Regions from separate parts of the Homo sapiens genome. Here all the other regions are linked to region 1. The links come from fine-mapping of genetic effects on gene expression. A gene starts in region 1. Each other region holds a variant in brackets. All regions are shown on one strand. Distances are from middle to middle.

Region 1 (8,180 bases):
CACCCCCCCGGAGTTACCCCCGGCCTCACCCTACATCCTTAACTTCCACTTTGCTGGGGTCCAGCTCCACGTACTTCTCCTCAAACACCTTGTTGATGATGGGGCCCAGGACGCCGTGCAGGTACTGCATCCCGGCCACCTGGGGACCACCGCAGGTCACATTGATCCTGTCTCCCCCAGTCCCACTCCAGCTGCCCACCTTCTCCCGGCAGCCGCCCTTGCACCGTTTGCCTGCCGTATCCGCCCAGGAGGGGGACAGGTACACAAGCAGGGCAAACTGTTTATTCATGAATGAATGAATGAGTGAGTGAATGAATGACTAGAATTCTTAGCCCTTGTAATCCTAGCACTTTGGGAGGCCGAGGCAGGAGGATCACTTGAGGCCAGGAGTTTGAGACCAGCCTGGGCAACATAGTGAGACTGTCTCTAACTTAAATTTTAATCACACACACATTCTTTTGGGGGGGGGGGGTGCGGGGCACGGAGTCTAGCACGGGGCCCAGGCTAGAGTGCAGTGGCGTGAGCTCACTACAATCTCTGGCTTCTGGTTCAAGTGAGTCTCCTGCCTCAGCCTCCCCAGTAGCTGGGATCACAGGTGCCCACCACCATGCCAGGCTAATTTTTGTATTTTTAGTAGAGATGGGGTTTCGCCATGTTGGCCAGGCTGGTCTCGAACTCCTGACCTTAAGTGATCCGCCCGCCTCAGCCTCCCAAAGTGCTGGAATTACAGGCATGAGCCACTATGCCCAGCCACATTCTTAACCTTAAAGGGCTCTCAATATGGAGATAGAACACTGGAGTCGAAGTCCCAGCCCCCTCTGTCGCTCTCTCTGAAGCTCAGTGTTGTCATTTGCAAGATGAGGACAATATAGCATGCAACCTCACCTTCAGAAAAGACTCCATGGACTTTGAGGCCAGAGAGTTGCTCCGGAACAGGGTGTTGGTCTTTTGTTACTTGGTCATAAGTAGGCGTTTTCCTTTTGATTTGGTTCTAGGAGGTTAGTGTGCATTGGCGTTCTGTTGCCTGCTTCCAGCCCCTATTCTCCTGCCTCAGGTTCATTAGAAAAGACTGAGTTTGGGGCCGGGCAGGGTGGCTCACACCTGTAATCCCAGTACTTTGGGAGGCCAAGGTGGGCAGATCACGAGGTCAAGAGATCGAGACCATCCTGGCCAACATGGTGAAACCCTATCTCTACTAAAAATACAAAAATTATCTGGGCATGGTGGCACGTGCCTGTAGTCCCAGCTACTCAGGAGGCTGAGGCAGGAGAATTACTTGAACTTGGGAGGCAGAGGTTTCAGTGAGCCGAGTTCGTGGTCACTGCACTCCAGCCTGGCTACAGAGTGAGATTCCATCTCAAAAAAAAAAAAAAAAAAAAGAATGAGTCTGGCCCCTTTTTGTCTTTCTCTCATCCTCTTTGCCTTTCACCATGTTATGATGCAGCAAGAAGCCCCTCATCAGATACTAGTGCCATGACCTTGGACTTCCCAGCCTCCAGAACTGTGAGAAAATAAATTTCTGTTCTATGTAAATTACATAGTCTGTGGTACTTTGTTATAGCAGCACAAAACAAACAAGACAACAAGCAACAATCATGTGAACAGAAAGAAAAATGGGCATAACAAATGAACCATGTTTTTGTCCAAATTAGGTTCACAAGCCCTTATCTGCACCATCCAGACTCAAACACCTTAAGATTTTGGTAGTTCATTTGGTAGCAAAAACTGACCTTAATTGTCATGAGGATATTTAGAGTCGTCTTATATTCCACTTAGCTGATTATTCACACATATCACACACTTAGCTGATTATTCACACATATCACAGCAAAAGCATGAACATGTCTGATTACCAGTTCCTGTCCAGATCCTGTGATAAGGGCTTACCCAGGACATACATGGTATAACTTTTCTGAAATCTTAGATTGAATTCCAAAGCACATCTGGACTTAAGGGATTGTGGATATATACATATATATACTATATGTATATATATACACATATGCATATATATACATATGTGTATATATATACATGTGCATATATACATATACATATGCATATATAATATATGTATACATATACATATGCATATATATACATATGCATATATACATATACATATGCATATATACATATGCACATATACATATACATATGCACATATATACATATGCATATATACATATGCATATATACATATATGTATACCTATACCTATGCATATATATACATATATGTATACCTATACCTATGCATATATATACATATATGTATACCTATACCTATGCATATATATACATATATGTATACCTATACCTATGCATATATATACATATATATGTATACCTATACCTATGCATATATATACATATATGTATACCTATACCTATGCATATATATACATATATGTATACCTATATCTATGCATATATATACATATATGTATACCTATACCTATGCATATATACATATATGTATACCTATACATATGCATATATATACATATATGTATACATATATACACACATAGTATATATACATATACACTATGTGTGTGTGTATATATATACACATATATATACTATGTGTGTGTATATATGTATATATATACTATACTTTTTTTGAGACAGAGTCCCGCCCTGTAGCCCAGGCTGGAGTGCAGTGGCGCTATGTCGGCTCAGTGCAAGCTCTGCCTCCCTGGTTCACGCCATTCTCCTGCCTCAGCCTCCCGAGTAGCTGGGACTACAGGCGCACGCCGCCACGCCTGGCTAATTTTTTGTTTTAGTAGAGACGGGGTTTCATCGTATTAGCCAGGATGGTGTCGATCTCGTGACCCCTTGATTCGTCCACCTCGGCCTCCCAAAGTGCTGGGATTACAGGCGTGAGCCACCGTGCCCGGCAGGATTTATATTTTAAGGAGGCAGGGGAGTTATTCTCCATGGGAGGAAATAAGCCGTGAGCTGCCTTGCGCTTTGGCATGTTTCTCTATCATACAGATAAGAAGCTAGTTCAGTCAAGTGTATGCAGATTTGTGGATGGAAAAACTGGTGCTCCCAGGAGGAGGGGAGCAGATTGAGGAATTACTGACACCTTCTAGGGGCGACCAGCCAGATGTGCAGGTGAAGCACAAGACAGGTTCTCTTCATGCCTCCACTATCCTGGCCTCGACCAAACTGCAGAGGGAAAAACTCAGGTGAGAGTGAGAAAGCACAGTCACTTTCAGTTAGGTTTGTAGCGGTGTGATCGTCACTTAGCACTCATTTATTCGTGTATTCATACATTTATGCATGTTTCTTTCACAGATCAAACTGTTGAGGGTCCACAAACAGGCTGAAGACCTCGTCTGGAGGGAGACTGCAGTGAACCCAAGATCGTTCAAATAAGCGCATCGACATAACAAGATTTAGAAAAGAATAAGCACGGTGCTGTGAGAGCAGCTAGCGGGGGCTGGACTGGGTCCCTGCGGCCAGGCTTCCAAGTCGAGCTGCCGTTTGGGTGGGACCAGAAGACGGGCTAGTCTGCGCCCCAGGATCCCTCCCTGAGGACAAACAGAAGGCCGGGTCCTCCCTTCTCCCGCTTGTCCTTCGGCATTCGCGGGACCTGCATGCTAGACCAGCTGGCCGGACAGCTCGCTAGGACCCGCGGGTGCGGCTGGCCCCTACCATTTCCGCTTCCTGCCGTGGGGCGGGGTTTCCGGTTGTCGGAGGCGAGGCTTGTCGGCTGTCAAAGGGGCGGCCCGGCCCGGCCCGGAAGCTACAGCAGCGGCGCGGAGACTGCGGGGCGGGCCATGGCGGCGAACCTGAGCCGGAACGGGCCAGCGCTGCAAGAGGCCTACGTGCGGGTGGTCACCGAGAAGTCCCCGACCGACTGGTGGGCGGCGAGACGGGCCAGGGTCGGGCCAGGGGCTGCCTCAGGGGTGGGTCTGTCTGGGGCGAGCGGGGGACTCGGGGGGAGCGGGAGCGCGAGCGCGGAGCGGTGCCCAGGCAGGTGGCCTGGGGCTTACCTGTCTGCCCCTCCACACCGCAGCAGGAGTGCTGTCTCACCCTCGTGACCCCTTGCCCCGCCGATCGTGGACAGGTTAAACCCGGCTTGGGGGGACCCAGTGAGTCCCCGCCCCTCCCCCTGTCGCTCGCCACCCACTGTGGGCTTCGCGGGCTTCCATGTTGGATCCTCGGCCTGGTCGTGCTTGCTAGCTTCGCCAGGTTCTTCTTTCCAGTCCTGGGACTTCCCTGGAGAAGGGGTTCCTGCACAGCCCTCTCTGAGAAGGCGGAAGCCACGCCCGGTTTTTTTGCAAACGCTGTGTTCGGGGATGGGCATTTGAGAGCGGCCTGGCAGCCGGGCTGTGAATGTGAGCCCTGCCCTGGGGGCTTCAGACGAGGAGCTCAGGGATCTGGGTTCTTGGCTGTCTGTGAACGTGGACTTCAGAACTTTCGTTTCTCCAAAAAGTGTACTCTTTCTTGTGCCTGAGCCATGGGAAGATGTACGAAAGTAGGATGCTCGCTATCTATTTGGGAAAAGGTCCCATTTTCCCTCTACCACCCAAGATATCCTCACTTTCCTCTTTGCTTAAATTGTTTTTACTGACCAGTTTTGAGAAATCCCAGTTCTGAGAAATATGCTGAGTATGGTGGGCTAAGGTGACCAACTTTGGGGAATAGAAACTGGGCCTTGGAGTCTGAGTCGTGGTGGGGCCACACTGTGGTCAGCACTGAGGCCCTCCCAACTGTCTTCCCCTTGTGTGGGGGCCATCTCCACTTGTGTAAGTGCTTTCTCATCTCCTCTGCTCTCCGTAGTGCCCAGCACAGAGCGGCTTTTATGCAGTGTACTATTGTGACCCTGAGGATGTTATGGCTTTGCTTTTTCCTCAGCCCTGGGCCATTAGGGGAAGAGCTTTAGAACACCAGTTGCTTGGTTCTATGGGGTCTCTGTAGACTCTCCTGTCAGGTCTGAGTGCCCTGGATGGCACTTATGCCAAACAGCACATCTTCTGTTTTGGAGGCATCTAAAGAAGGATATCTCGTCATTTCCTTGGTGGGGTTTTCTGCCTGCTTTATAATCCCTCAGATTTACCCACGTCAGTCAGTGTTATTTTTCTCAGGAGAGTTTCTAGATGTCAGCCCTCTGTTTTGCCTCTCTCCTATTCCTGTTCGTGTTTCTCTTAGACCTCTCCTGTTACTTCAAACCCAGTCAAAAGTATCTCTGCAATGAGTGCCCCATTTTCATGTCCACATCATACCACTTGGCTTTAGAACCCAGAAGAATCTTTGCCCCTCTTCAGCCCTGCCAAATTAAAGATTTTGCTTCTTAACATGCTCTTGATCACTCTGTTTACCCTGGCAGACTTACCTAGGAGCTTCCTGGCACTCCTCATCTATCTCCCTTCCAGGTCTCTCTTCATCATCAGTCTTCTCAGGAACCATCACTGGTTTGGGATGATGCCTCCCAGCCCACCTGGCAGTTTGGGCTTCCCTCTTCAGACCTCCTATGTTCCTAGCCTTTCCTTGGGCTGCTTACGAGAGCTGTCTGCTACCACTCCTGGCCCGGTGCTTACCCACCCCATCTACTCTCTGTCCCTCATGAGGGTTGTGGAGCCTCCTCTTTCCCCTCATGAAGTCAGAACCCACCCATCTCACTGGACTCATCTGCCCAGACAGCCATGCTATGCTCCCTCCCTACCTCCAGGCTCCTGCAGCACTACAGGTTGTGTCACTCAGCAGCATAACCCACTGACCTCCACCCTCATCGTCACAGCCATTAAGGTAGTTACTCAGCAGATACTATGTGGCAGATTCCTGCACACTGCGGAAAAATATCTGGACCATGTCACTTCCGTGTCTGTAACTCTACAGTGGCTTCCTGTTGCATGTTGAATAAAGCCTAGACTCCTTGCCCTGCTGATGCCCTGCATGACCCAGAACCTACCACCCCTTTCATTTACCACACTGTGGCCACACCTGTTTGTCACCACTCTGGCCGTCTTTCTCTTCCTCAAACTTACAAGCTGGTTCCTCTTCAGAGTCCTTGCTCTGCTGCTTCCTCTGCATGGAGCACACTTTTTCCACATCGTCCCAGGTGGCTCCCCAGCCTTCACTTCTTGGCCCCGAGGTTGCCTTCTCAGAGAGGCCTTCCTTGATTCCTAGCTCCTTGTTTGTAGGCACTTTTTCCCATCTTTCTGTTTGACTTCCTTCAGACACATGCCAGACACAAAATATGCTGGAAATCCTTATGGATTTTCTTGTCACCTTTATCTCTTACTAGAAGGGGTGGGGTGGGCTCTGTCTCTGTCCTCGGTGCTTGAGGCACGGTTGTTACATGTGGCAGATGCTTAGATGAAGGATGGACCAAGTCATACAGAAAAAGTGGTAGAGATATCAGAGGAAGAAGAGGTGGTCTCTAGTTTGGTGGGTCATAAGAGGTTTCACACACACAGTGCTGGCATTGGGGAGGGCAGATAGAGTGGGGAGCAACCATGACATCAGCTCTCCATCTTGGATCTGTCTCCCGCCCCTGCTTACTCCGTATCTTGGCATGGTTTGTTCTCACCTGGTTCATGTGTCACCTTCAGCACCTGCTTCACTCTCTAATAGTACGTTAGTGTTAGGTGTGTGTTTTTTCTTCCGTTAGAAAGTAAGTTCCATGGGCAGGACCTTTTAGGGATTGTTCATAGCTGCATTCCTGTAACTAATAAGCAGTAGGCTCTCAGTACTTATTTTCAAAGGCACTATTGAATTATAAGATGCTTGACACTCCATATGCCTTGCTGTTCAGAGGCCAGTGCACCATGTTTTTTCATGTTGATTTGAAACTTCCTTCGCCCTTCTTTCAAAAGGCCTCTGAACTGGGAATGAGCCTCTGCGCTGGGAACATTCTTAAAGGTGGCCTGGGGTAGAGAGGGATCAAGTCAGAGGGATAGGTGGCAGGCATTGAGCTTGGCTCTTATTATATTAGCTGCTGAGTCCCTTTTTTTTTTTTTTTTTTTTTTTGAGACAAGAGTCTTGCTCTGTCGCCCAGGCTGGAGTGAAGTGGCACGATCTTGGCTCACTGCAACCTCTGCCTCCCAGGTTCAAGTGATTTTCCTGCCTCAGCGTCCCAAGTAGCTGGGATTACAGGCACCCACCACCACACCCAGCTAATTTTGTATTTTTAGTAGAGACGGGGTTTCCCATGTTGGCCAGGCTGGTCTCAAACTCCTAACCTCAGGTGATCCACCCGCCTTGGCCTCCCAAAGTGCTGGGATTACCGGCATGAGCCATCGCAGCTGGTTGAGTCCCTTCTTGCAAGAGCTGGGTTGAGCTGCCATCTTCTGTTACCTGCTGCTTGTGCCAGCTTGCTATCTTCTGGGAGCCAGGGCTTTGTGGCCATCAAGAGGAATGGGCTTCTTTCCTCCAGGGAGTTCCCCCCAGCTCATGCTGGCAGTGTGCCACCTCCCAAATCTTTCTCTTGTTTTTCTGTGTTCTTTTCTCTAGTTCCTTTTCTCTGAGTGTTTCTCATTCAGTGTTTCTCTCCTGTATTCTGTCTCCCCTCCTGGTAAGGAGTGCCTTTTCCCGGAGGCCTGTCTCCTCCCTACCAACCAGATCCACTGGGCCTGGGTCTAATTTCTTCCATTTTTCTGAGGCATAAGTATCTCTGCCCAGTGGCACTGGCAAAGCCCTGGGGAAGCCAAGTTGAAGCTGATTTGGTTCCTGTCCGACTGTTTATCCCTGGAGCTTCTGTCTGGCCTGCCTCAGCAGGCCTGTGCTTTAGAGCCTGGGGAGATGACACACACTGGACTGGGTTTTGCCTTTGACTTATAGTCCAGTGGGTCAGTGCCTCCAGCCCATGTCCAGCAGCCCTGCTGGGGATGTTCAGTTGCTGCAAGGTTCATGCTATTAGCAAGCCAGAATGAATCTTTACCAGAGTTTTGTTTTTGTTTTTGTTTTTAAGAGTTGGGGTTTCACTCTGTTGTTTGGGCTGGAGTACAATGGCATCATCATGGCTCACTGTAGCCTCGACCTCCCAGGCTTAAGCAATCCTCCCACCTCAGCCTCCCGAGTAGTTGGGACTACGGGCATATGCCACCACGCCTGGCTGATTTTTGTATTTTTGGTAGAGACAGGGTCCCACCATGTTGCCCAGGCTGGTCTCAAACTCCTGGGCTCAAGCGACCCTCCTGCCTCAGCCTCCCAAAGTCCTGGGAT
Region 2 (8,180 bases), 61 kb before region 1:
ATGAGAGGCAGCTGAGGGTTGCCGGGCGAGCTGCCTCATGCCTGTAATCCCAGCACTTTGGGAGGCTGAGGCGGGCGGATCACCTGAGGTCGGGAGTTTGAGACCAGCCTGGCCAACATGGTGAAACCCCGTCTCTACCAAAATACAAAAATCAGCCGGGCATGGTGGCGGGTGCCTGTAATCCCAGCTATTCAGGAGGGTGAGGCACGAGAATCGCTTGAACCCAGGAGGTGGAGGTTGCAATGAGTCAAGATCGCGCCACTGCACTCCAGCCTGGGTGACAGAGCCAGACTCTGTCTCAAAAACAAAAAAAAAGAAAAAAGAGAGGCAGCTGAGGGGAGGGACAAGGGTCATTAGTCCACATGGGAGCTGGCTGAGGCTGGTGCCCAGGGATAGGGGAGCTGAGTGGGTGCAGGCCCAGGAAGTGAGCAATTGCCAGTGACACCGGGTGGAGGGACAGGTGGAGGAGGAGTTGTGAGCTCAGCTGCACAGGACATTACTCCAAATGGGGCTGAGGAGCAAGGGGGACCCCCACACTCCCCACATCCCAATGCTGAGGCATGTGGGTAGGGGGCTACCCAGGAGGGCTTCAGGGAAAAAGTGTTCTGAAGGAAGAGGCAGGAGGGTGGTGAAGGGGACATTTGGGGGCCACCCCTTCTCCAGCTGGCAAAATTGTCCTGTCCCCGCTGGGTGCGGTGGCTCATGCCTGTAATCCCAGCACCTGGGGAGGCTGAAGCGGAAGGATCACTTGAGGTCAGGAGTTTGAGACCAGCTTGGGCCACACGGTGAAACCTGCACCCCACCCCCCACCCCGCCCAATCTCTACTAAAAATACAAAAATTAGCTGGGCATGGTGGTGCACTCCTGTAATCCCAGCTACTCGGGAGGCTGAGAGATGAGAATCACTTGAACCCAGGAGGCGGAGATTGCAGTGAGCCGAGATCGTGCCATTGTACTCCAGCCTGGGCGACAGAGCAAGACTCCATCTCAAAAAAAAAAAAAAAAAAAAATTTGCCCTGTCCCCTGAGACTCAGAGGTCAGCCCCTGCAGAGTCCCTTCTGCACACCCCCAGCCCCACCCCAGCCTTAGCAGCCCTCTGTCTGGGCAGGACTTTGTGGCCCTCTCTCCAGTCTGGAGACCAGAAGGCCAGGAAGGGAGGCCAGGCATGGTGGCTTATGCTTGTAATTTCAGCACTTTGGGAGGCCAAGGTGGGAGCATCTCTTGAGCTCAGGAGTTCCAAACTAGCCTGGGCAACATGGCGAGACCCCATCTCTACAAAAAATAAAAAAATTAGCTGGGTGGTGGCACATCCTATAATCCCAGCTACTTGGGAGGCTGAGGTGGGAGGATTGCTTGAACCCAGGGGTTCAAGGCTGCAGTGAGCTATGATCGTGCCACTGCACTCAAGCCTGGGTGACGGAGACCCTGCCTCTACCCAAAAAAAAAAAAAAGAAAGAAAGAAAGTTAGCTAGGTGCCTGTAGTGCCTGAAATCCCAGCACTTTGGGAGGCCAAGGTGGGAGGATCGCCTGAGCCCAGGAGTTCAGTGCTACAGTGAGCTATGAAGACGCCACCATACCCCACCCTGGGCAACAGAGTGAGACCCCATCTCTAAAAAAGGAAAAAAAAAAAAAAAAGAAAGAAAGAAAAGAAAGAACAGGAAGGATCTAATTCCACTGGATCAGCATGAAAGTGGCGTGTGCCTCTGTATGTCCATTTCGCTTTCTCTGTCCTGCTCTGACCCAGCAGATTGGCCTCCAGGGACTGCACCACTGAGACCCCACACTCTCTTGCTTCTCGTGAGGTGTGGCCAGTGGAGACACTGGCATGAGATCAGGGGGCGGGAAGACAGAGCCCAGTTCCCTCTGGTGGCTTCATCCTTTCACCTACAGCCCCTGCTCCTGCGGGGCCCCTCACCCATGGCTACTGCCTGCTGATCCAGGAAACATCACTCCCTCCCTCCCATCAGCAATCAGATCCAGGAGTGCTTAGGGCCCCATTACAGCCAAGTCCCAGGTCACCCTCTCTGGTCCATTCCCCTAATGCTGCCCACACCTTTGTAAACGCTCTCAATTGCCCTGTGAGACAGCGTACCCTCTGTTTCCTGCCAGGGCCCGACGCATACAGGGTGTGGGCAAGGGTTTGTGAAATGCAGGGTCTTAGAGTTCACCCAGTTCACCTTCCCTTTTAAAAATGTTTCATTTTAGAGACAGGGTCTTGCTCTGTCACAGAGGCTGGCGTCCAGGGGTGCCATCATAGCTCACTGCAGCCTCCAACTCCTGGGCTCAAGCGATCCTCCCACCTCAGCCTCCATAGTAGCTGGGACTGCAGGTTCACACTACCATGTCTGGCTAATTTTTCTTTTGTTTTGTTTTGAGACAGTCTTGTTCCCTGTCACCCAGGCTGGAGTGCAGTGGCATGATCTGGGCTCACTGAAACCTCCTTCACCTGGGTTCAAGTGATTCTCCTGCCTCAACCTCCACAGTAGCAGGGATTACAGGCATGCACCACCATGGCTGGCTAATTTTTGTATTTTGTGTAGAGACGGGGTTTCACCATGTTGGCCAGGTTGGTCTCAAACTCCTGACCTCAGGTGATCCTCCTGCTTCTGCCTCCCAAAATGCTGGGATTCCAAGTGTGAGCCACCACGCCTGGCCTTAACCACCATGCCCAGCCTTAATTTTTGTATTTATATTTTGTAGAGATGGGGTGTTGCTATGTTGCCCAGGCTGGACTTGAACTCTTGGTCTCAAGCAATCCTCCCACCTCGGCCTCCCAAAGCACTAGGATTAGAGGTGTGAGCCATCTGCACCTGGCCTAACCATTGCTTTTTATGTAAGGGGAAACTGAGGCCCAGAGAGTGTGAGTGATCTGTCTTGGGTCACTCAGCCCCAGGGTTGGGGCTCAAAGCTGTTCTGAAAAGGTTCTGGAGAGGCCAGGGCTTATCTCACAGAGGTTGGCAGCCTGTCTGCCCCATCCCCTGCCTGCCTCTCCCAGCCTGGTAGCTTCAAGATCATTTGAGCATTTCCTCCACAGCAGGAGCCGGATGCATCTGCTCCACCTAATAACCCCATTAGGGCCATTTGCGCCTCTCAGGGGCAGGCGCCTGGGAACCCAGCCAGCGCCCTCCTCCCTGACCTCTTGCCCCAGAGGGCGGGGCCCCTCCACATGGCACAGGGTGTCTTCCGGTCTCCTCTCCATCCCTCACCCTCCCCTACCTGCCCATCAGCAACACATTGCTCCTCCTGCCTGGCACCCTTCCAAGGTCCACCTGGCCCAAGTGTCCTGCTCCTTCTTCAAAGCCACCCCTCCCCAAGATGCTGCCTCTGAAGCTCAAACAGTCCATCTCCCTGACAGTTGTGTCCTCTCCTTCTCTCGTATGTGGTAGTATCACTGTCCTCCCCCTAAAGCAGTGGGCACCTTGAGGGCAGAACCTTGCCACGGGCATCTCTGGCCCCTGGGGTCCGAGCACTGAGTGGGAATCCTGATGATAAGTGTTGCATGAGCTGGGCACAGTGGCTCACGCCTGTAATCCCAGCAGGAGGATCACTTGAGACCAGGAGTTCGAGACCAGCCTGGGCAACATAGTGAGACCCCGTCTCTAAAGAAATTTAAAAAATTAGCCAGACATGGTGCCATGTACCTACAGTCCAAGCTACTCAGGAGGCTGAGGCGGGAGGATCGCTTGCACCCAGGAGTTTGAGGCTGCAATGAGCTATGATCACACCACTGTTCTTTCCAGCCTGGGCAACAGAGTAAGATTCCATGTCTACAAAAAAATTAAAAATTAGCCAGACGTGGTGTCATGTGCCTGTAGTCCCAGCTACTCTCAGGAGGCTGAGGTGGGAGGATCACTGGAGCCCAGGAATTAGAGACTGCAGTGAGCTATGATGGTGCCACTGCACTCCAGCCTGGGCTATAAGGTGAAACTCCATTTCAAAAAAAAAAAAAAAAAAGAAACTGCACCTTTTGCCTTTCGTGTACTCTAGGAAAGGATTGGAGGAAGTGGAGGCAGAGGGCTTGAAGTCCTCCAGCCAACAGGGGGCAGGCTGGGGAGAGGGGCCACAGGGAGGATGCTTGGGTGGAAAGATAGCAAGTGCCAGCCATGCTGCCCCGTGGCCTTTGGTTACCAGGAGGCTGTCTGGGCAGGACAAGAGGAGCACCTATCTCAGGTCCACAGTCTGCCAACAAGCCCAGCTAATTTTTTGTCATTTTTGTAGAGATAGGGTTTCACCATGTTGCCCAGGCTGGTCTCGAACTCCTGGGCTCAAGTGATCCTCCTGCCTCAGCCTCCCAAAGTGCTGGGATTACAGGCCTGAGCCACCGCAACCGGCTTTGGGTCCACAGTCTTCACAGTTCCCAAGGCATGTTCACCTTGGTTTAGCCTTACTGTGGCCTTGTGGGTTCAGGGTTACCATCCTCATTTTACAGATAGGGACAGTAAGGCTGGCAGAGAGACCTGTCCTGCCCCAGGTGACAATTTCTCTAGGATCCTGAGCCTTGCCCTGGTCCTACACGCCCTTGGGGACCTCCTCAGGAGGAGGAGCCAGGGGCAGTGGTGCAGAAAGACTACCCAGGTGTATGATGTCAGAGGCAGGCAGGGAGGTGTTGGGGGCATTTATTTCTGATAGAGACTGGCACAAGCTTTGGGCTAAGGACACCCGCCCCCACCCTCATCTAGAAACAATCTCTCTCGCCAGACTTGATGGCTCACGCCTGTAATCCCAGCACTTCGGGAGGCCGAGTCAGGCAGATCACAAGGTCAAGAGATGGAGGCCATCCTGGCCAACATGGTGAAACCCCATCTCTACTAAAAATACAAAAATGAGCTGGGCATGGCGGCGTGTGCCTGTAGTCCCAGCTACTCAGGAGGCTGAAGCAGGAAAATCGCTTGAACCCGTGTTGCAGTGAGCCAAGATCGCGCCAGCCTGGCGACAGAGTGAGACTCCGTCT[CA/C]AAAAAAAAAAAAAAAAAAAAAAAAGTAAAGAAAAGAAACAATCTCTCTCAGGGTCCAGAAGCTTCAGGGCGTGTCCCAGCCCAGGCTCTGCAGCCTGGGCCAGGGAGGAGGTGTAGGGACACGTGGGCCCCTCTGGTACCCCTCAGGAATCCCCCTCGGCCAGAGTGCTGAACGCGAGGTGCGTGGTGTATCTTCTCACACTCCCTGTCTCCTCTGGGCCTGATAGGGAAGTGCTCCTGCAGCTGTTGAAGCTTGGGAGGGGAGGAGAGAGGGAGAGATGATGGATGCTGAAGAAAGGCTCTGGCCGAGATCCCACAGCCATTGGCTAGCATGCTCTGACCCATCGCACAGGGGAAACTGAGACTCCACTGGCCGGGCAGAATTAACCAAAGGGACTGAGGCGATTCCTTCAAACCTCACAAATCCAGCTCATTGCTCCTGCTCCCCATCACTCTCCCCCTCCACCCTCCACACCTCAGGACCCCGCTCAAACATTATCTGCCTGTCTCCCCTGATCAAAACCCACTCCCGGCTCCCATAGGCTGCAGGATACAGCCCAGTTCCTCAGCTAGGCACCTGGGGCCCCTTGCCTGGCCTGGCTGCATGCACCCCTCCTGCTCCTCCTGCCCCTCCTGCCCCCACACCTCCCCACCCCCTTTTTATCACTCCCTCTCCCCCTCCTCCCCAAATCCCACCAGGGCTAGGTCTCCCCTTTTCTCTAGGAAGCCTTGTGGACACTCTCTGTGCCCCAGGCTCAGGCACCTGAGCTCTGTATGAAACCCTGACACCCCCCCCTTTTTTTTTTTAAATGGAGTCTCACTCTGTCACCCAGGTTGGAGTGCAGTGATGCAATCTCAGCTCACTGCAACCTCCACCTCCCAGGTTCAAGCCGTTCTCCTTCCTCAGCCTCCTGAGTAGCTGGGATTACAAGCACGTGCCACCACACCCAGCTAATTTTTTGTATTTTTAGTAGAGCTGGGGTTTCACTATGTTGGCCAGGCCGGTCTTGAACTCCTGACCTCAGGTGATCTGCGGGCCTCAGCCTCCCAAAGTGCTGGGATTACAGGCGTGAGCCACTGCACCCGGCCTGTATGGCGTCTTGAGGCAATGCTCAGAGCTTGGTGTGAAAGCAATTCACCTCCTCCTTGGGCGCCTCCCCGACTGGGGTGTCCGCAGGCGGCAACCACTTGCAATCCCAGATGCTGCCACCAGGGGGTGCACAGTACCCGCTTGGAAGGTGGGCAGGGGCGGGCGGGGAGGAACTAGAGAGGGAGGGGTTAATGCCCAAGGGCCCCGCCCCTCCCAAGAGGCATGGGCGGTCTCAGCCCGGTCCACTCACCAGCTGTATATGAGCACAGCCAGGAGGACCGTGAGGACGACGGCCAGGAGGATAGACAGGATGGCGATGATGACCACGGTGCCCGGGCTCTGGGGGCCAGGGACAGCCCGAAGTGCCTGGGCTGAGGGCAGTGATGGGGGCCGCATAGGCGGGCAGGAAAAGAAATTTTACCTGACCGGAAGGGGCCCTTGGGCAGAATCCAGACCAATCACCGCCCTGCCTCCCCTACCACCACCCAGGCCTGGGGGAAGGGGGTGGCTGGGGGAGGGGCGCCTGCAGATTGCAAGATGGTTGGCTGCCTCTGACTGAGTGGTGAGCTGACCTGTTCCCCCAGCCCATCCTCAGTCCTCAGGACCCCCAGGCCCCAGCCCCCTGCCCCTACTGTTTGACCGGAGCCTCTGGCCCCTACCTTGCTGCAGGCGAGTGTTGCTGGACCACTTTGTTTCAGCCACGGGTCCTTTGTCATTCATCACCAGGAACTTCACCCTGAATGGGAGACCCAGCATTGGCCATGGGGGTCCCCCGGAGTCCTGAAACCATCAGACTTGGTGCCTGCAAGTCTGTCCCCTGGAGTCCCAGGCCCTGGCGAGAGCAGCCCGGGGAGGGGGCCGGAGGCTGGGGCGAAAGAGCCCAACAGAATGGGTTCAAATCTAGGTGTGACATTTCCAGTGGTGTGACGTCCCTCCCCCTCTCTGGGCTTCTGTGTCCTCATTTGGGAAAGGTAGGGGGTGAGTATTAGATCTCTCAGAACTGAACATGCGTGAATCAAGCATTTAGTGAGGGGAGACCCTGTCTGGATGGAGAGACGCCACCTGAGTGGTCCACATGGCCTGTGGGGACTGGGGCTTGAGGTGGGGAACCTTCTGCTCAAGAAAAGCAGGATAGGCCAGGCATGGTGGCTCACGTCTGTAATCCCAGCACTTTGGGAGGCCAAGGTGGGCAGATCACTTGAAGCCAGGAGTTGAGACCCGCCTGGCCAACATGGTGAAACCTCATCTCTACTAAAATTACAAAAATTAGCCAGGCATGGTGGCAGGTACCTGGCCAACATGGCGAAACCCTGTCTCTACTAAAAATACAAAAATTAGTCGGGTGTGGTGTCAGATGCCTGTAATTCCAGCTACTCGTTAGGCTGAGGCTGGAGAATCGCTTGAACCCAGGAGGCACAGGTTGCAGTGAGCCGAGATCACACCACTCTACTCCAGCCTGGGTCACAGAGCAAGACTCCATCTCAAAAAAAAAAAAAAAAAGAAGAAGAAGAAGACGACGAAGAAGAAGAAAAGGAAAAAAAAAAAAAAAGAAGGATAATTCATGTAATTCATGAAGGCCTCCCCAGCCCCTGCCTGCTGCTTCCTCTTCCCTTTGGCCAAGCAGGAGCAGGGGACCCAGGCATCCTGCTGGGGCCCTGGTGAGCCTCGTAGGAGCTGCCCCAGGCTCCGGCTTGGGTGCATGCGGGCAGGAGCCAGGGCCTGGCAGAGCCGCTCACCTGTAGGGGCTCGGTCCTGGTAGGGGATGGTTGCAGCCAATTTTTGTTGGTTGGCAGTGGGTATCATTGCCAACACGGAGGACATGGAGCTGGCCTCTGGCCTGGTACAGCACCCGGTTGGCCCTCAGTGTGAGATAGTAGCCCCTCTGGGAGAAGTTGGCAGGAGCAGGGATGTCCTGGTTTGTCCGTGGGGCCGTGAAGCTCTGGGTGGCTAAGGGTGGCACCATGGTCAGACAGGTCACACAACAGGATCCCACCCTCACCTTACCAAGCCTGACAGCCCTCCCCAGCCCCATCCCCTGCAGCACCTGCTCCCTGCATCTCCCTGCAACACACCCGCTACTGCCCTTAGGCCCACAGGCCCATTTCACATAGGGAAAACCGAGGCCTGGCCCCAGCAGC
Region 3 (8,173 bases), 29 kb after region 1:
TCACCTAAAGTCAGGAGTTCGGGACTAGCCTGACCAACATGGCAAAACCCTGTCTCTATTAAAAATACAAAATTAGCCAGGTGTGGTGGTGCATGCCTGTAATCCCAGCTACTCGGGAGGCTGAGGCAGGAGAATTGTTTGAAATCGGGAGGCGGAGGTTGCAGTGAGCCAGATTGTGCCATTGCACTCCAACCTGAGCGACAAGAGCGAAACTCCATCTCCAAAAAAAAAAAAAAAAAAAACACAAAAAAACTATGTGTATTAGAACCCCTAGAACAACCACTATGTGTGTGTGTTGGGGGTGTGTGTGTGTGTGTATAGGGAGAAGGAGAGATAGGAGGGAAGGAAAAAAGGAAAGAAGAAACAGCAATGGAAAACAGGGAACAAACAGAAAACAACATAATGGTAGATCTAAAGCCAAACATTTCAATAGTTGCATTAAACATAAATGGCCTCATCACGCCAATTCGACATATTATCAGTTTGGATTATAAAAACCTAATTATATGCTGTCTTTAAGTAACTCACATTAAATATAACAGGATACAAGTAGGTTGAAGTAAAAGGTAACAACTCATTCTCTGAGGGCAGTATTACCCTGATACCAAACCCAGACAAACAACCTAAGGAAACTACAGACCAACCTCTTATGAGTACATATGCAAAAATTGAGAGTCCAGGGAAAAATCCTTCACACAATGGTTAATTGATTTTTGACAAGGGTGCCAAAATAATTCAATGAGTAAAGAATAGTATCTTTAACAAATGGTGCTGGGACAACTGGATTTCCACGTGCAAAACAATGAATCCCCACTTTACACTTATATAAAAATTAACTCAAGGCCGGGCACTGTGGCTCACACCTGTAATCCCAGCACTTTGGAAGGCCGAGGTGGGCAGATCACGAGGTCAGGAGATCCAGACCATCCTGGCTAACACGGTGAAACCCCGTCTCTACTAAAAATATAAAAAATTAGCCGGGCGTGGTGGTGGGTGCCTGCAGTCCCAGCTACTCGGGAGGCTGAGGCAGGAGAATGGTGTGAACCCGGGAGGCAGAGCTTGCAGTGAGCCGAGATCGCACCACTGCACTCCAGCCTGGGCGACAGAGCGAGACTCCGTCTCAAAAAAAAAAAATTAGCTGGGCTTGGTGGCTTGTGCCTGTAGTCCTAGCTACTTGGGAGGCTGAGGCAGGAGGATTGCTTGAGCACAGGAGTTTGAGACTGCAGTGAGCTATGATCATACTACTGCACTCCAGCCTGGGTGACAGAGCAAGACCCTGTTTCTGGGGAAAACAAAGAAACAAACTATAAAAGAAAGCAAAGAAAATCTTTGTGATTTGGGGTCAGAGATAGGACTCCAAAAACATAAGAAAAAAACTGGTAAACTGAATAAATTGATAAACTGGACTTCACAAAAATTAAATACATTTACTATGAAAAAAACAGTGCTAAAAGAAGAAAGATAGTCTACACACTGGGAAAAAATATTTACCAGTCACCATAGTGGCACATAAAGAACTCTCAAGATTGAACAGTAACAGATGGGCATGGTGGCTCATGCCTGTAATCCTAGCACTTTGGGTTTTGCCATGTTGGCCAGGCTGGTCTCGAACTCCTGACCTCAGGTGATCCACCCACCTTGGCATCCCAAAGTGCTGGGATTACAGGTGTGAGTCACCATGCCTGGCCAACAATTCCATTTTTAAAAATGAGACTTGAACAGCCACTTCACCAGTGAGGACATAGAAGCCAGTGAACAGATGTTCAACGTTATCAGGCATTAGGGAAATGAAAATAAAACCACAGTGAGCTACTGTTATGTACCTACTACTAGAAAAGCTAAAGTTAACAAATACTGCAACTATCAAGTGCTGACAGGGATACAGAGCAACTGCCTACTGTGGTGTTTAACTTACAGGGGTGCTCACAACGCTGGTGGACTGCAAAATGACAGACGCACTCGGGACAACAACTTGGCTCTTATGAAATAAACATATACTTACCAAATGACCCAGTAATCCTGTGCCTATTTACCCAAGAGAAATGAAGACCCATGTGTTACACGAAAACCTGTACATGCATGTCTGTAGCAGTACGATTCATCATCTCCAAACCCTGGAAACAACCCAGACTTTTTTTCTTTTTAGGCAGACTCTTGCTCTGTCGCCCAGGCTGGAGTGCAGTGGCACAATCTCAGCTCACTGCAACCTTGGCATCCCAGGTTCAAGCAATTCTTATGCCTCAGCCTCCCGTGTAGCTGGGAATACAGGTATGAGCCAACATGCCCAGCAAATTTTTGTATTTTTTGTAGAGATGGGGTTTCGCCATGGTGGCCAGGCTGGTCTCAAACTCCTGGCCTCAAGTGATCCACCCGTCTCAGCCTCCCAAAGTGCTAGGATTACAGGCATGAGCCACGGCATCCGGCCACAACCCAGACATTCAACACCTGAATGGATAAACTGTAGAACACCCATGGCATGGAACAAATTACAAACTCAACATACCCAGCAACCTGCAGGAACGTCAAAGGCATTAGGCTGTGGGGAGAGGCCAGTCCAAAGGTTAAATATAGTTTGGTTCTATTTACATGACATTCTAGAGAAAGCAAAACTATAGGGATGTAGCACCGCTAAGTGGGTGGGGGTGGAGAAGCACATGACCACAATAGGACAGCATGGGAAGTGTTCTGGGGATGGACCTGGTGTGCCCTACGTGTGCAAAAACTGCACCCCAAGAGTCAACTTTACTGCATGTTTTCAAAATATTTTTTAATGTGATGAGTGGTCTGGGAAATCCTCGCCTAACAAAGTGGCTTTTGATTCAAGGCCTGAAGAAGGGGAGGGCCCACTCCAGGTAGATGACATGGCCAGGGCAAAACCTGAGGCCAGAGTGTGCCTGGGGATATGAGGGACGTGGAGGGCACCCATGTCCAGCCCACCTCAGTGCTTCTGCCTCAGTGAGAAGGGGAGGGAGTTGGCCACAAGGGGGCCTGGGTGCATCAAATAGGAAGCCGGTGAGTCAAGCAGCTCGGGGCCAGTGGGGCTGGAGAGATGCCAGAGCCAGGGGCTATGTGTGGACTTAGGGTTTGGAACCATTAAAGGGCTCTGCGACGGGAGTGGCAGGATATGACCTATTTTTGAGACATTGTGCTGAGAACAGGCCTTAAAGGCAGAAGCACAGAGCCTGGCTCGGGGCGCTGCAGTACTGAAGCCCCATAGTTGAAAATTATCTTCCTCCCAGCTCCTACCCAGGCCCTCTCCCTCTCCAGATGCCTACAGCACACCAGACAGTAGGCTCCTTGCTGGCACGAACCACAGCCTCCAGCTCATGGCTCTCAAATGCAGTGCAGGTATGCATGGTTCTCTTCTGGGCATTCTGGGCAGGGTGCCCTGCAGGAGCCACAGTTAACTGCAGTGCAACTAATGAGACACTGCACATCAGGGACCACTTGCCATTCATGACTGCAGGCCCCACCACAGCTCCACGATGTGGGCCCCACTCACATCCCATCCAGGGCAGGAACGTGAGCCATGGGGAGGCTAAGAGCAGACCCAGGGTCACACAGTGATGAGGCTGGCACTGAGGGCTCC[C/T]ACCTCATCACACCCTGCAGCACACCAGCAGGGGCTCAACTGATCCTGCAGGCACAATTGACCTCCGGAAGAGCCAGGCCTTGGCGGGGAGGGGTGAAGGTGGGGGTCAGGGGGCAGCATATCTGCCTGGAGACATTCAGTGGCCAGGTTGGGGGCAGCCCAATTTCCTGAGTGGAAGTGGGGGACACAGGCAGGCTCAGGCGTTTCTCTGCTCTGGAGGAAGGTACTCAAGGCCCAGGTGTCTGAAGATGTCTTCCTCTGAAGCCGCTTGGAAAAATGTCTTCTGCAACAGAAGCAGGACTTCCGTGACCTAGGAGTCTTGCCACTGCTGCTTCCCTGCAGGAAGACTGAGGGTGGGGAAGAGCCCAGCGCCGAGGTGGGGTGTGCTCTTGAGGGCCAGGAACTGTGTGTGGAGACCCAGATTCGGGTCCTATGGGTTTCAGGCTGGAGGGGTCTGGGGCCATTTCAGATTGTGGGTCAGGGAGCGGACTATGGGTGCTGTTTGCTGTCCCCAGTCCCCAACAATGTACCTGCTCCGGGTCAAACAGCCCATGGCTGTTCAGCCACAGGCCCTTCTCCTTCCGGCTGAAGCGGCGCAGCTCCCGCTGGAAAAGCTGTAGGGAAGGGATTGTCCTCAGCAGGGCTGGCCCAGCCCCACCCCCAGGCGGCCCAGCGGCACACTGCCTACCTTGGAGCCAGTCCAACCGAGCAGGGCGAAAGGGAACTGGCTGACGGGTGCAACTACCAAGTCCACTCTCACGGCCTTCCAGGATGGGCAGGGCCTCGTGGATCCCCCCACAGCAGCCCCTGGAGGTTGTGGTAGGCGGAAAATGCAGAAACTTCTCTCAAAAGCGTCCATGTGGCTCTGTTGGGCCAGGCGGGTAGGGGACTCACAGCAGCTGTGCTGGTGCTGGTGGTACAGGATGAGGCCCTGTGGGGAGAGGCGGGCGTGGCTGAGACCATCCGGTGGTGTGGAGAGAGCAGGAGGCAGTGGCATTGGCCAGCGGTGGCTCTTGGGGAGCAGGGAGGCCCTCACCTGGTCCTGCAGGCGGCACATCACTCTAGGCAGCAGCCCCGCCTCCTGACCCTCCTTGGGGTGGGTGATGAGGAAGTCCACGTCATGGCCCTGCAACTTCCCCCTGAGGGCGTCAGTCTGACTCTGACTCAGGGACACGGCCTGCTCACTCCAGCCCCAGGCCACATCCCTTCCAACGAGTGGGCCCGCTTCAGGGTCCCCGACTCAGGTCCCTTCACTGGGGAGGGGTCTGAAGCCAAGCCAGAGGGGCACGTCGGGCCTTCTTACCTGCGGAAGCCGCCGGTCAGCGTGACGGTGGCCCCAGGCAGGGCCTGCCCCACAGCTTCCTCCACCACCTGCTGCAGGGCATCTACATCGGACCGCAGGACTGGGGTGCTCAGGTCCTGGTGGTGCTGGAGCCCTGGGGGCAACACCGGCCCTCCTGACTCACCCAGCCTGCCCACCACACCGAGCCCCCATCCCTCACCAGCATGAGGTGATCAACCTGGGGCCCCGTCATTGCAGGACCAGGAGAGGCCTCCGAGGAAGGTGAGGCTAGGGCAGGGAGCAGAGTGAGATCCCAATCTAAGCCTGACACTATCTTCTCTCCCCCTTTAAATTTTAAACTTTTATTTTGAGACAGTTGTAGATTCACTCGCAGTTAAAAGAAATAGCACAGAGGGAGATCCCATGTGCCTTTTACCCAGCTCCCCCAAAAGGTTAACCCCTTACAAAACTATAATTTTGCAACCAAATATAAGGATACTGATGTTGATACAGTCATGCCACAGGCTATCTCTTTTGATGGCTGTTTTTCCTTATGCATAAAGTGGGACCAAGAGGTGGTAAAAGGATGGAAGATGGCTTTGCCATGACGAACACCTCACTCTGGCCTACTTCTGTTTCCTCACCTATCAGCCTCCCACACGCAGTTAAGGAGAGGTTTATTTATTTATTTGAGATGGAGTCTCGCTCTTGTTGCCCAGGTTGGAGGGCAGTGGCGCAATCTGAGCTTACTGCAACCTCCACCTCCCAGGTTCAAGTGATTCTCCTGCCTCAGCCTCCCGAGTAGCTGAGATTACGGGTGTCTGCCACCACACCCAGCTAATTTTTTATTTTTAGTAGAGACAGGGTTTCGCCACGTTGGCCAGGCTGGTCTTGAACTCCTAACCTCAGGTGATCCACCCGCCTCGGCCTCTCAAAGTGCTGGGACTACATAAAGATGTGAGTCATGGCACCCAGCTAAGGAGAGGTTTAAATGTGAGGAACAGCAGCACCTGGCACAGTGAGCTCTCAGTAAACGCTGCTAACCATTCCTGACTACTCTTGCCATGGGGAGAGGCGATCAAGAGGAACCAGCTCTGCGGGTCTCACCTCCTGTCAGCTGAACTGGGCAGTGGCCCGGGGGAAGATGTGCGAAGAGGCAGTGGAGCTGGCAGTGCCTGCTGGGCTGTGGGGATTGCTTCAGCAGAGCCCTCAACCCAAGGGAGGTCCCAGATGGTGTGGCCAGAGTAGCCAGGCAGGCCATGCAGAGAGAACAGAGTATCTGCTCAACACCTGCCACTTGCCGGCTCTCACAGGGGAGCCTACGAATTCATTCCTTCCCACCTTTTTTTTTTTTTTTTTTTGAGATAGGGTCTTGCTCTGTCACTCAGGCTGGAGTGCAGTGGCTCAATCTCAGCTCATTGCAACTTCCACCTTGGCCTCAAGGCTTGACCTCCCGGGCTCGAGCGATCCTTGTACCTCGGCCTCATGAGTAGCTGGTACTACGGGCATCCACCATCACGCCTGGCTAACTCTTGTATTTCTCGTAGAGACAGGGTTTCACCCTGTTGCCCAGACTGGTCTTGAACTGCTGAGCTCAAGCGATCTACCCACCTTGACCTCCCAAAGTGCTGGGATTACAGGTGTGAGTCACCATGCCCAGCCTTCCTTCTCCATTTTACAGAAAATGTAACAGACTCAGAGAGGTTATTTCTTGGGCAATGGTCACCTACCTGGCAAATGGTAGATAAGACTCAAACCCAGGCCTAACAAACTTGAAAGCTGATGTTCTTTCTGCTGCTCAGTGCCACCTCTGCAGGCCTCCATGTACCAAGCACCACACTGGGCAGTGTGCCCAAGGCCCAGGCTGTCCCTGGTCACTGGTCAAAGTCTAACCAGTAGGCAGACACAAGCCCCTGGCATATCATGGAAGTTGCTGTGGTCAGCATCGTCCACTGAGAAAAGGCTTTGATAGATCCTGACTGCACTGGGTGGAGACCCCAGGAAGCCCACCACACAAAGCTGCCACCAAACCCTCTGCACCAGACTGCTCCCTTCCCTCTAGGGAGTTGATGCTGAGGGATCCAGGGTGCAGTTTAGGGAAGCCCAGGGCCCAGCCTCTCTGGAGGGCTCACCCGCTTTCTGCTGTTGGGTTAGTTTCTGGGGCTGCTCTCGGAGGTCATCTAAGGTTCGCAGTCCTTCCCGGTACCACCGGTCAGCAGTCTTCACACCGACCCCGAAGATCTGGGTGAAGAGCTGTGGGGAAGGAGCGTAGCCCGGTTGGGCAGAGCTCTCATGGCTAGACTCGGATGATCACCCGCTCCGGGACGGTGTGGCCCATGGAGCACCATGCACCAGGCAGGCGCCGTCCCCACTCGCAACCTGCCGTAGACCACAGGGCAAGGATTCAAACCTGGAGCCTGACTACCCAGCCTGCCGTCTCTGGGAACAAACCCACGCACACCCCTCTCCTCTCCTCTATGAAAGGGACTTACACAGCTCTAGCCTGTGATTCCAACATAATCAAAACAGTCACCCTAACACATCAGCACGAGGGGCTCCTAAGTCACTGGAAAAACCATGCCTCTCCCACCTAACAGAAGGTGGAACAAATTTCTGTGGTTCTCCTCCTTAGCCAACAGCAAAAAACAATGAGGAGTTAACAATCAAAAGGGTGGATTTAGGAGCAGAGTTGGCAGGGCTGGCTGGGGTGCTCACATATCTTCCCACAGAGGGTGGGCCCCAGCCCAAGCAAGTCACCTGCTTCAGGTCAGCCACTAGAGTCCCTCCCTAGGAATTCTGGATCTGAGACTGAGGGCAGGCCCACACAGTGGCAGAAGCTGTAGCCTGTGGCAGCCGAGCACCTTTTGTGGCCACATTTCCAACCGATGGAAGAAGCTGGTGCGTCGCAAGAGAGGGCGAAGCCACCGTGCAGAGGGGCAGAGGGGAGGAGGAGTGGCCTGGTGATACCCAGGTCGCTGAGCCCAGTTGTCCTGCAGACCGGCCACAGCCCTCCCCATCCTGGGCTCTGCTGGCCCTCCTTTCCTTTATTTTGTGAACCAACGGTGTGGGGTGGGTCACTGTCACTTGCAACCCAAAGAATCCTGACTAAAAATGATGAGATTAACCCAATTATATTGTTAATAAACTTCTCATTACTAATGTAATTTTCTGCCAGCCTAGATGCCTTCAGGGCTGGGGCTGAGGCTGACAGTGAAAGTACTCACTAACCTCACACCACTTCAAGGGGATTTCATCATCTTCAGGCCCCTCACTCCCACACTCACCACGGTGGCCCCACTCAT

Which allele goes with the higher level. Positions count from the first base shown, and alleles are read on the strand shown. Sizes are in standard deviations (SD) of each study's normalised expression. Not every link is listed here.
With allele CA in place of C in region 2, the expression in monocytes of the gene that starts at base 3,755 in region 1 is lower (moderate effect, 0.64 SD a copy in BLUEPRINT).

Evidence for each region. PIP is the estimated chance that this variant, and not a neighbour inherited with it, causes the effect.
Region 2: its variant is fine-mapped to the expression of DBNL in monocytes (BLUEPRINT, PIP 0.94).
Region 3: its variant is fine-mapped to the expression of DBNL in whole blood (TOPMed, PIP 0.93).

What each region holds. Positions count from the first base shown.
Region 1 is chr7:44,040,948-44,049,127 of GRCh38, forward strand. It overlaps DBNL (drebrin like), which reads left to right and starts at 3,755. Exons shown (of 13, transcript NM_001014436.3): 1 at 3,755-3,873. The coding sequence starts at 3,791. LINC00957 (long intergenic non-protein coding RNA 957) reads left to right here. Exons shown (of 3, transcript NR_072982.1): 3 at 3,306-3,349. RefSeq lists a silencer at 3,795-4,014 and an enhancer at 3,953-4,453.
Region 2 is chr7:43,979,900-43,988,079 of GRCh38, forward strand. It overlaps the pseudogene POLR2J4. Among named protein-coding and RNA genes, the nearest start is that of SPDYE1, 14 kb to the right of the region's middle. RefSeq lists a silencer at 6,064-6,113. The variant CA/C (reference allele first, on the strand shown) is at 4,952.
Region 3 is chr7:44,069,506-44,077,678 of GRCh38, forward strand. It overlaps POLM (DNA polymerase mu), which reads right to left. Exons shown (of 11, transcript NM_013284.4): 6 at 7,004-7,124; 7 at 4,893-5,025; 8 at 4,626-4,728; 9 at 4,278-4,520; 10 at 4,120-4,203; 11 at 2,557-3,872. The coding sequence ends at 3,786. MIR6838 (microRNA 6838) reads right to left here and starts at 3,928; the gene lies at 3,873-3,928. RefSeq lists enhancers at 4,594-4,793, 4,864-4,933. The variant C/T (reference allele first, on the strand shown) is at 3,590.